Regions from separate parts of the Homo sapiens genome. Here region 2 is linked to region 1. The links come from fine-mapping of genetic effects on gene expression. A gene starts in region 1. The other region holds a variant in brackets. All regions are shown on one strand. Distances are between the middles of the regions. Region 1 holds the start of CCDC91 (coiled-coil domain containing 91). Region 2 has its middle 43 kb from the start of CCDC91.

Region 1 (5,381 bases):
GAGACAAGAAAAGGCACAATAGAGAAATTAGAGCCCTCATACATTGCTGGTGAGAAAGTAAAATGGTACAGCCACTTTGGAAAACAGTGTGGTAGTTCCACAAGGGGTTAAACATAGAGTTACCATATGACCCCGCAATTCCACTCTTAGGTATATATCCAAGAGAAATGAGAACATATGTTGACACGAAAACTTGTACATGAATGTCAACAGGAGCATTATTCATAATATTCAAAAAGCTGAAACAACCCAACCGATGAAGGGACTTTGAAAACATGTTAAGTGAAAGAAGCCAGTCACAAAAGACCACACATTGCATGATTCCATTTATATGAAATGTTCAAGATAGACAAATGCATACAGACGGAAAGTGGATTACTGGTTGCCTAGGGCTGGGGAGAGGAGGGAGAAGTTGGGGCCAAAGGGTATGGGGTTTCTTTTTGGGGCTGTGAAAATACTCTAAAATCGAATGTGGTAAAGCATGCATAACTCTGTGAATATACTAAAATCACTGAATTGTTTATAAAGAAAAAGATTACTGTGGGGAAGGAAGAAAGATTTCATGGAGTTGGTAGGATTTGAATTCACTGATAAATAAGTGATATAAAAAGCAAAGTGATGTGCTATAGTGAATAAACAAGCCCTTCTGTTGGGCAGATCTGGCTTTAAATCCACTTGGTCAATTTACACTTCCTAAATCTGTAACCTCATCTAAAGTGTAAATATATTAATATACCTACTTTGTAAAATTATTGTGGTAAGTTATATATGGGATTTAAAATATTTAATCTAATGCCAGGCACATAGCAAATATTAATAATAAATATTAGTTACTTATTATAAATCTGTTTAGTATGGAATACAGTTTAGTATTGAATATCGGGACAGAGTGAACATGTAAGTACATCAATGGGAAGGAACTCCCAGAAACTAATCTGGTTTCCAGCAGAAAGAGATATGAGAGACAAAATAATATAAAGGTAACCTTACTAAGTTTAAGAAATATTTATGAATACCTTTTTTCTAACTACTAGACACTTTGCTAGACTGCTGGATACACAAAGACAAATGAGAAGTGAGTAGATTGCTGGATATACAAGTGAGAAGTGGTCCTTGACTTGGTAGTCTAGTAGACAGATAAAAAAATATGTGTAAGAAAGCATTACATTTCTTACAATAGAAATGTTTTTTGTATGCATAAAGAAGGGGGTGGGCTGGAAAAAGAATGTAGTCAAGGTGACTTGCTCAATACTGAAACTGCTCATTAACTACTTAGGCCAGCACTTATGGCAGACTTGTCAGGATGCCTTGCTAATATTTTCCACTTCCAGTACAGAACAGAGATTACAGGTTTAAGCCAATTTTGTTCAACAGATGAGAAACCCAGTGTCCAAGGATGAAAGAATACTTGTTATACAAGGAATGTGAATATTCCAGAGATTTATGCTCAAAGTCCCCAGGTTAGTGTCTTTCTTTCTCACTAGACTGTAAGCTTCTTGAAGACAAATATCTTGAGTGTTACCTTGCTCACTCTTGAATTGTCAAAACTTGGCCCAGGACTAGGTATGTGGTATACAATCAATAAAAATTTGTTGAATGAATGTTCTTCAAAATCCTTCCATGGCAAAAACAGAAGAAACATTCACGAGTGGACTGCTAGTTGACTGTTTCTCTCATCGCTATTGACAGTCTGAAATGGACAAAGACATCTATATAATCATTCCTTCCTTTCAAATAAATAATCTGTGAATTACGCTATTCTTTTCCTATTGCTTCAGGACAAGCTATTTGACAGAAAGCTTTTAAGAAAGGCTTTGCAAGAAAACTCTGCAACAGAGATGGCACGTATGAATTGCTGTGATCTGGAGTTGAAGACAAGAACAAAAGTAACTCTAGAGCAGAATTCTTTGACCAAAGTCATCTTACTGGTTGGCGGAGGCTCTCAGTCTACTTGCATCCGGTGCTTGAGAGTTCAGACAGGCAAAGATGAGAGGTAGCATCTAGTCAACATCCATTTCTTGAGCACTTACTACATGTCAGCCACTTTGCTTAGTCCCCGGTTTTACTGTGCTCTGCTAGGAAGTGGTGAAGAGATTCGGCGGGATCTTCTTAGGACCAATCCTACAAAGTTCCAGATGGAACTCATTTTGATTTGGGGGACGGTTTACTTGCAGGGATTAGGTGGAGAAACAGGGCCTGCTACTCAAGAGGAATGAGAAACTGTAACTAACAGGAGGTAGACTGGGAAGGAGCATGGCAAAGTCACCCCTTTTCACAGGGCAACGCTCCAAAGACCACGCTCAAGCTGGGGTGGCAGGGCTCTGAACATGGGGCCCCGACCCGGGCCTCGGCCTGGGGCCACGTGACGCGCGTGTTTACGTTGAGTGACGGGCGCTGTGTTGGGCGGGCCTTGGCGGAAATCAACTTCCGGGGGCAGAGGTGTTCGAAGCCGGGTGGTGCGTGGGCTACCCCAACCTGTGTGGCTGGGCCGCGGTCTCCCCTCAAGGGCCTGGGGCCGTGCCTCGGGTGTACGCGTAGGGGTCTGTGTGCTGGGGGTGGCTCACCGGGCAGCGTGGGTGAGCGGCGCAGCGGCGGCAGCGGAGAGCGAGAGAGGGGAGCAGGTAAGTGAACGCTCGCCTTCCGGGGCCTGGGTCTTGGGGTCGGGGCCGCGCGAGGCGAGCGGAGAGCGCCCCACCGGGGGAGGAGCGCGGACGAGCTTCCGCCGCCTGCAGCCCGCCTGCTGCGGCCTCGCCCTTGGCTGTCGCAGCGACCAGGAGTCAGGGGGCGTGACCAACCTCCTGCGGGAACGGAGCCAGCTCCCGGGGGTGGGAGTGCCCACTCGTTCCTGCGCTCGCCGGTGGGTACCGGTATCTGCACGTCCCAGAATCGAGTGTTTTCGAAAGTCTACGCCCACGAACACGTGATTATTGTGTCACCGAAGCGCCTACCGAACGGAGACCTTGATTCTTGCTTAGATTACACAGAACGCGCCTGGTTTATGTATCCCCTTTTACTTTGCCAAGTACATTGGGGTAAAAGCTCTACAGCGTCTGCCAGCCACATTTCCTTAGAGTTTCTTGGGCCACATGTTGCAATAAAAGTGGCATTTCAGGGTCAAGGCAGGAGCCAGTAACTTTGCCAAGTGGTGAGGTATCCTTCGTCCCCGTTAGCACGCCTCCCTTTCCCAACAATAAAGATATTTTCTCCATCTGCGCGTGTCGCCTACTGCGGAGGAAAGCTTTGGACATGAAACCTATTTTTGGCTTCACTTTAAGGAGTGGAACTCTATTAAAAGCTGCGCTGGTGTTTTTTTGGTAGGATGATGTTGCTGCTGCTACTCTCACTTGCTTCCTTGATGAGAGTTGGGGCAGAGCTCGATTTCCTGGAGGGTAAAGTCTTGGCCACAATTTTAGGTGACTCAGCGGCCCCTTATGAATTCTGACTCTTTCCTTCCCTCCCCTCTCAGCTGTGCGGATACTGATGCCACCTTTCTCTCCAAATATTAATCCGGGTGGGAGTTGGATGATGGTTTTTGGAAGCAGTTTGCATGTTGCGTGGTGGAGTTATTGGAGTGGGCTGACATTTTACTTCACAATTTAAGGCAACCCTTCCCCCCCCCACAATATTTAGTTGGGTGGGGTGACAGGGACTGACAACAAATTCGCTGTTGTGTTCCCTGCTGTCGGAGAGTTCTACACTTAATGATCACCTGATTGCCCTCTGCTACAATTTCTATTGCGTTGAGGGGATTGGTTATACTGTCTGTACCTATTAGGTAAATGTAGTAAGGGTCATGCCAGGCAGAGTGCACCTGCATGGTGTTGGCTAACCAGTAAACTGTGTGGTAGAGAATTGCCCTGGTTACGAAGTTTGGTATCCTCCAGGCTGCCTAGGAGGGTGTTCTGTGGGCTGGGAAATCTTATGAACTGGTTTCCTAGCAACAGTATAAGCCCAATGGAATAAACATAAAGAAAACAAAGTGATGAAAGTTACAACTTACCTCTTAACTTTTATTAAATGGAAAAATGTAGCTTCTTATTGGAGTGATCCACTCAAAACTTCTGAGACATTTTTGTTTATTTTGATCATCTTAGTACTTAATAACACACAAAAGAAACTGCAGAAAATCATTCCAGAGGGACATCACTTTGGTTTTGGGTGGCATTAAAATAGAGAAAAAAGACGTTTAAAAATGAGCTTGTCTGGAGCTTAAATGGACAAACAGGAATTTGGTGTAATAGGCATTTTATGTTGTACTCTTATCTATATGTGTCAGATGTATGCATTACATATGATTGTTATGAATGAAGATAGTAGAAGACGGAGTGGGAGTGGAGTAGAGTGGATGGGTGGATAAGACTGGTTCCATTAAGTAAAATGGAAGGGGAATGTTTTAGATAAGTTGTTCCCAAACTGTAGGTCATAATTACAGCACTCCTTTGTCAACCTGTTCCTTGTGATTTTTAATCTTCCTTGAAAGTTTATCAAATTTTCTTATTTTCTGTCCAAACAATGAGAACTTAATTGAAAAAGGCATCTCTCTTTGGATTAACTCTTGGTGTTTATGTATATCTGTTTCTTATTTACTAACGATAAATTAATATTTTAGATTTCCAGTATTTTAAGGATTTTTGGTCTCCTTACTGTTCCTCCCTGCCCTATTCCCATACCCAGTAAGTTTGGTTTAGCTCATTTAAACTGATGCATATTTTTAAAAAGGGCATATGTTGCTTTTTTTAAAAAAAATCAAGTTTTATTGAGGTATGATTTATAAGTAAAAAAGTAATTTTTATTATATTGCTGTATAAAGTCTGACAAATGCATATAATGGAACCACTGCCACAATCCAGACAAATAATATTCCCATCATTCTAAAGTTTCCTCCCCTCACTCATAGGTCCTAGCAACCACTGATCTGTTCTCTGTCCCTGTCTATAGCTTTGTCTTTTCTGGTATGTTATGTAAATGGAATCATACAGTATGTAGCCTTATGTTTCAGGTTTCTTTCACTTAATGCTTTGATTCATCCATGTTGATGCATGTTTGTTGATGCTTGGTTGTTTTTTACAGCTGAGTAGTATTTCATTGTGTGAATATATCATAGTATGTTTATTCGCCATTTGATGAACAATTTTTGGCATTTAGGAATGAAGGTACTGTAAACATTCATGTGCTGTTCTTTGTACATTAAGGTGCAAGTCTTTGTGTAGACATATGTTTTCATTTCTTTTGGTTACACATCTAGGAATGGAATTCTTGGGCCGTGTGCAAGTGCATGTTTAACCTTAAAAGAAATTACCAGCTGGGCGCAGTGGCTCAGACTTGTAATCCCAGCACTTTGGGAGGCCGAGGTGGGCAGCTCACGAGGTCAGGAGATTGAG
Region 2 (5,381 bases), 43 kb before region 1:
GTTTCTCTGAAACTTAGTTTTTAAGAGATTTAAGAAAATGTTTTCATAATATTATATGCAATCCAAATGGCACGGGAAAGAAGTACCAAACACCTTCCTTCATTCAGCTATTCTCTGTCTCTAGTCATTTTCTCTATTCATTTGTTATTCATTCAACCAACATGCATTGAGCACATATTATGCACTAAGTATAATTAAACCACTGAAGTGAAGATGAATGAGACATGTTTGCTAGCCTTACAGGCCTCTAGGATTGATTGAGTCCCCCTCATGTTATAAACTACCACATAATGAGAAAAATGCTAATGGAGACATTGCACCTCCATGCTCATTTACGAGAATGATCATAAGAAGATGCACATAAGGGGTGATGTTTATGGAATCTTCAAAGACTGAGCAGGAATTTGCCAGGTGCACAAGAGGGGAAAACCTTTCAGGCAAATGCACCAGCCTGTCGAGCAACATTGAAATGTGAACTAGCATGGCATGTTTGCAAGAAGACAGTCGAGGCTGAACCTAGGTAGTGGTTCAGTAAGGCAGTAAGGCAAATCAGGGAGATAAAATTAATGGGGCGAGAAGGAGCCAAATCAGGAAGGGCTGTTTATGTTCATCAAGGAAAGGAGGTGATGTTTTTTCTTACGGGTGTTCTAAGTCACTGAAAGGTGTTAAACAGAGAAGAAACATAGTTTTGTGCTTTAAGTACCAGAAGCAAAAATGTAGGCTACAGATTCAAGAGGAAAAAAAGGTAGGAGAGCCTGCCAGCAATGAGAACTGGTAGGAGGCTACTGCAGCAGAACAGGCAGGAAATGATGAGGCTTGGAAGCGAGACAGAAGCAGTGGTGCTGGAGTGGATTCCATGTATATCCATAGAGTCGCTGAGACTGAATGACTGATTGGATACGTGAGTAAGGAAGAGGAAGTGATCCCGAAGTTTCTAACTTGGACACTAAGATATAATTAAATGAAAGGAAGTTGGACTGGAAAGATGATAAAAGAGAATTTAATTTTGGATATGTTAAGTTTAAGGCATTTGTGATAGATTTAGCAGGATATCTATTAGGAGCCTAGCAAGTCTGAAGTTCAAGAGAGGGGTTTATACTGAAGATAAAAAGTTGAGAGTCATAAATACATGGTACTTGATATTATAGGAGTCGGTGAGATTACCCTGGGAGAGTGTATAGAAGAAAACAACAAGTGCAAGTCCCGGCACTTTGGGAGCTTGAAGCAGGAGGATCTCTGGAAGCCAGGAGTTCGAGACTAGTCTGGGTGAAATAGTGAGACCCTGTCTCTACAAAAAAAAAAAAAAAAAAAAATTAAGAAGCCAGGTGATATGGTTTGGCTGTGTTCCCACCCAAATCTCATCTTGAATTGTAGCTCCCATAATCCCCACATGTTGTGGTAGGACCTGGTGGGAGGTAATTGAATCATGGGGGCAGGTTTTTCCCATGCTGTTCTGGTGACAGTGAGTAAGTCTCATGAGATCTGATGGTTTTATATAGGGCAGTTCCCCTGCACACACTCTCTTGCCTGCAGCCATGTAAGTTGTGCCTTTGCTTCTCCTTCACCTTCCACCATGATTGTGAGGCCTCCCCAGCCATGTGGAATTGTGAGTCAATTAAACGTCTTTTTCTTTATAAATTACCCAGAGTCGGGTATTTCTTCATAGCAGTATGAAAGTGGACTAATGTAGTCTTAGCTACCCAGGAGGCTGAGGCAGGGGGATCATTGAGCTCAGGAATCATATTTCAGCCTGGGTGACAAAACATGACCCCACTGAAAGAAAGAAAGAAAGAAAGAAAGAAAGAAAGAAAGAAAGAAAGAAAAAGAGAGAAAGAAAGAAAAGAAGAAGGAAGAAAGAGGAAGGAAGGAAGGGGAGAAAAAACAAGTGTAAGGACAAAATCTTATCTTGGAGAAAATTCAGAGTGTAAAAGAAACTAATGTAGAAAAAGAAACTAAGGAAGGAGAAGATGGAGCAAATAGAAGTAGAAGATTAAGTAATTGCCATATAAAGGCAAACATTTCAAATGGCGCTTGGTAAATATTTTAAATTTTTTTGTAAAATAGGTTGAGATAATAACTGAAAAGTGCTCATCAGATTTTAAAGCTACAGAGTCTTTGGAAGCCATCACAAGAACAACGTTTTGGGAGCAAAGCAGGGAGAAGTCAGACTGCAATGGATTCAAGAGCGAAAAAGGAAGGGAGGGAGTAACAACATCAGGGTGGGTTACTTTTTTCAAGAAGTTTGAGTATGAATAAAAGGAGAAGGAGATCTCCTCCTCCTCCTCCTTCTTTCTTCTTCTCCTCCTCCTCCTTTCTTCTTTTCCTCCTTCTCCCCCCTCCTCTTCCTCCTCCTCCTTCTTCTCTTTCTTTGTTTTTAAGAAAGGAAACATTTTTCTCTAAAATAAAGGAAAAAGGCTCTATTCCATAGAGGTGCTCTGATTTGGGAGACTGCTACAAACATCTGCTTTTAAGAATAATTTTTTCATCTTAGGTTTTTCTCATCTATAGTTATGTTTCCAGGAGCACAGTTTGATCTATAGCAGACCGACCTCTATGTTAATAGCCTTTTGCCCTACAATAAGATTCTATTCTATTTACACAGAAGAGTATGTGGACTGAAGCCAACAACTAGAAAGAAAGGAAAATCACTCAGTGAAATGAAATCTGCTCAGCAAAATGTGTAACAGTGTAACCATATATCATAGTATTTTTTATTATTTTCTCTTTACTAAGTTTATTTGATGGATCAAGCATTAATTCTTTTTTCTTTTTCTTTTTTTTTTTTTTTTTTTTGAGATAGAGTCTCACTCTGTCACCCAGGCTGGAGTGCAATGGTGCGATATCGGCTC[A/G]CTGCAACCTCTGCCTTCCGGGTTCAAGCGATTCTCCCTGCCTCAGCCTCCTGAGTAGCTGGGGTTACAGGAGCCCACCACCGTGCCTGGCTAATTTTTTTATTTTTAGTAGAGATGGTGTTTCGCCATGTTGGCCAGGCTGGTCTTGAACTCCTGACCTCAGGTGATCTGCCCACCTTGGCCTCCCAAAGTGCTGGGATTACAGGCATGAGCCACCGTGCCCAGCCTCAAGCATTAATTTTTAAAGCTATTCAACATGCACTTACTTTGTACAAAGTCGAAAGTGTTAGAGGTAATCTAATGACAATTATGTACTAACATACCTGAGCCTCTCTCTGTTTCCTTACATATGTAGAAAAAATGCAATGCATAAAGTGATTCGAATCCATATGGTTCTCACATTTGGGAAATTTAAAACCTATTTCAGACATTACCTTAGCCAGCTTCACAGCTCTAAAAAACTCTTTTTCTGAACTCTATATTATCACCTTAGGTGGAAAGTAAGGTGTGTGTCATTATGTTGAATTCTGCCTTCTATTCCAGACAGTACAGCTTTTGCAAACAGTTTTGTCTGACTACATGGTTTTTTGAGTCCCACAAATGAAGTACTCTGTTATCTACTTTTCCCACTCCCAGCCTCTATTTTACAGATGAGAAAACCTGAATGTATATCTTTACAGAGTTTGAAGACAGAGAAGAATCTTGAAGACTAAGGCTGCTTTTTGCTTGTAACTAAAAGCAGAATGACTGGAACTGGCAACAGGAAGGCTGTCTTGAAACCAGGCAGATTCTCTCTCATTTCTCATTTCTCCTTCATTCTTCTGTGTTTCTTCAATCCTGCTTCCTCTATGTCTTAGTCAAAAAGGTAGAATATAGCCCTACTTTATATGCTACAACATTAAATATGCCCTAAGCATAGAATACTGAATCTCTTTCTCTCCAACCACAGTTCCAAACCCCTGAGGGAAACACAGTGGTTCAGTTTGTAAGCCTAATGGATGCTTCTTGCCGGCTGCACAGGTACAGCTGGTTCACTGAGACAGTGGTATTGCTATAACGCAAGAGTTTAATTAATGCAGGGCTAAACCATGTGCAATACGGGAGTTGATTACTCAAATCAGTCTCCCTGAAAATTCGGAAACTAGGGTTATTTTAAGAATAATTTGGCAGGCAGGGGGCTAGGGAATGGGGAATGTTAATTGGTCAGGCTGGTGATGAAATTACAACAGATCAAAGCTGTTTTCTTGCAGTCTTCAGTTCCTGGGTGGGATCACAAGACCGATTGAGCCAGTTTACGGGTCCAGGTGGCACTAGCAGGTGCATCAGAAAGCAGGGTCTGAAAAATACCTGTGACACTAACCTTAGGTTTTAAAATAGTGATGTTATCTATAGGTACAATTGGGAGGTTATAATGCTTGTGACCTCTGGCTACATGACTCTTGAACCATAATTTCTAATCTTGTGACTAATTCGTTAGTTTTACAAATGTGATTTCAATACCCAAGCAAGGAGGGAGCAGTTTTTGGGAAGGGCTATTATCTTCCTTGCTGTAAGGTTAAACTATAAACTGAATTCCTCCTGAAGTTACCTTGGCCTACACCCAGGAATGAACAAGGTCTGCTCGGAGGTTAGACGCAAGATAGAGTCAGCTATGTCACATTTTTCTTACTGTCATGATTTTGCAAAGGTGCCTTCCAGTTTGGATTGAATATCCTCTCAGAATACAGTCAGCTGTGGTCCAAAAGTACAATCACATTGCCTAACATGGCTTCCAGGCATATATCTCTGTAGCTGGAAGCAGAAATAGTTAAAGGGATCATTGTAGGCCAAGCGGATATTAAGCAGATATTCTAAAATGTGTCCATTAGAAAAGCTACTCCCACTTTGTGTTATCAGAAACGCTACTCCCATTTTGCCTCCACTCCCCATCCGAAACACACTATTCTATAGGTCAAGGTTATATGGGAGAATTCTTGATGCACTTCTCTTTTCACTACATGATTTATCTTTCTTGACAATAGGCTGATTATCATTAAGTAAGCTGCAAGAAATGCCAGTCAGCTTCTTTTTACGCACTCTAAATCCCTTTCTCCTACTTTCCTATTCATTTCTTTCTGAGAAATTAAAGATAATGCTGCATGTATGTTAGAGAGACAATTTTTTTCAGAAGATCTTAGCCTGGTAGTAGCAATTCCTTCTTTTTTAACAATAAATTTTACTGTGTATATTTGAGTTTTTCATGTTGTTATGTGATACATGTAGATAGTAAAATGGTTACTGTAGTGAAGCAGGTTAGCATATCGATCATCTCACATCGTTATCTTTTTGTGACAAGAGCAGCTAAAATCTACTTATTTAACAGAAATCCAATCCAATACAAATTTGTATTAACTTTATCCCTGTACATTAGATCTCTAAGCCTCTCTATCCTTCATATCTGCTATTTTGTATTCTTTGACTTATGTTTCTCCATTTCCTCTCCCTGCAACCCCACAGTGGTAACCACTGTTTCATTCTCCATTTCCGTGTATC

What was found. PIP is the estimated chance that this variant, and not a neighbour inherited with it, causes the effect.
Region 2: its variant is the best candidate, but not a certain one, in a credible set for the expression of CCDC91 in whole blood (TOPMed, PIP 0.62).

What each region holds. Positions count from the first base shown.
Region 1 is chr12:28,188,021-28,193,401 of GRCh38, forward strand. It overlaps CCDC91 (coiled-coil domain containing 91), which reads left to right and starts at 2,436. Exons shown (of 13, transcript NM_018318.5): 1 at 2,436-2,621. LOC729291 (a long non-coding RNA gene) reads right to left here and starts at 2,718. Exons shown (of 1, transcript NR_148936.1): 1 at 1-2,718. RefSeq lists silencers at 2,403-2,452, 2,483-2,912, 3,596-3,890.
Region 2 is chr12:28,144,565-28,149,945 of GRCh38, forward strand. No RefSeq gene overlaps it. Among named protein-coding and RNA genes, the nearest start is that of CCDC91, 43 kb to the right of the region's middle. The variant A/G (reference allele first, on the strand shown) is at 2,850.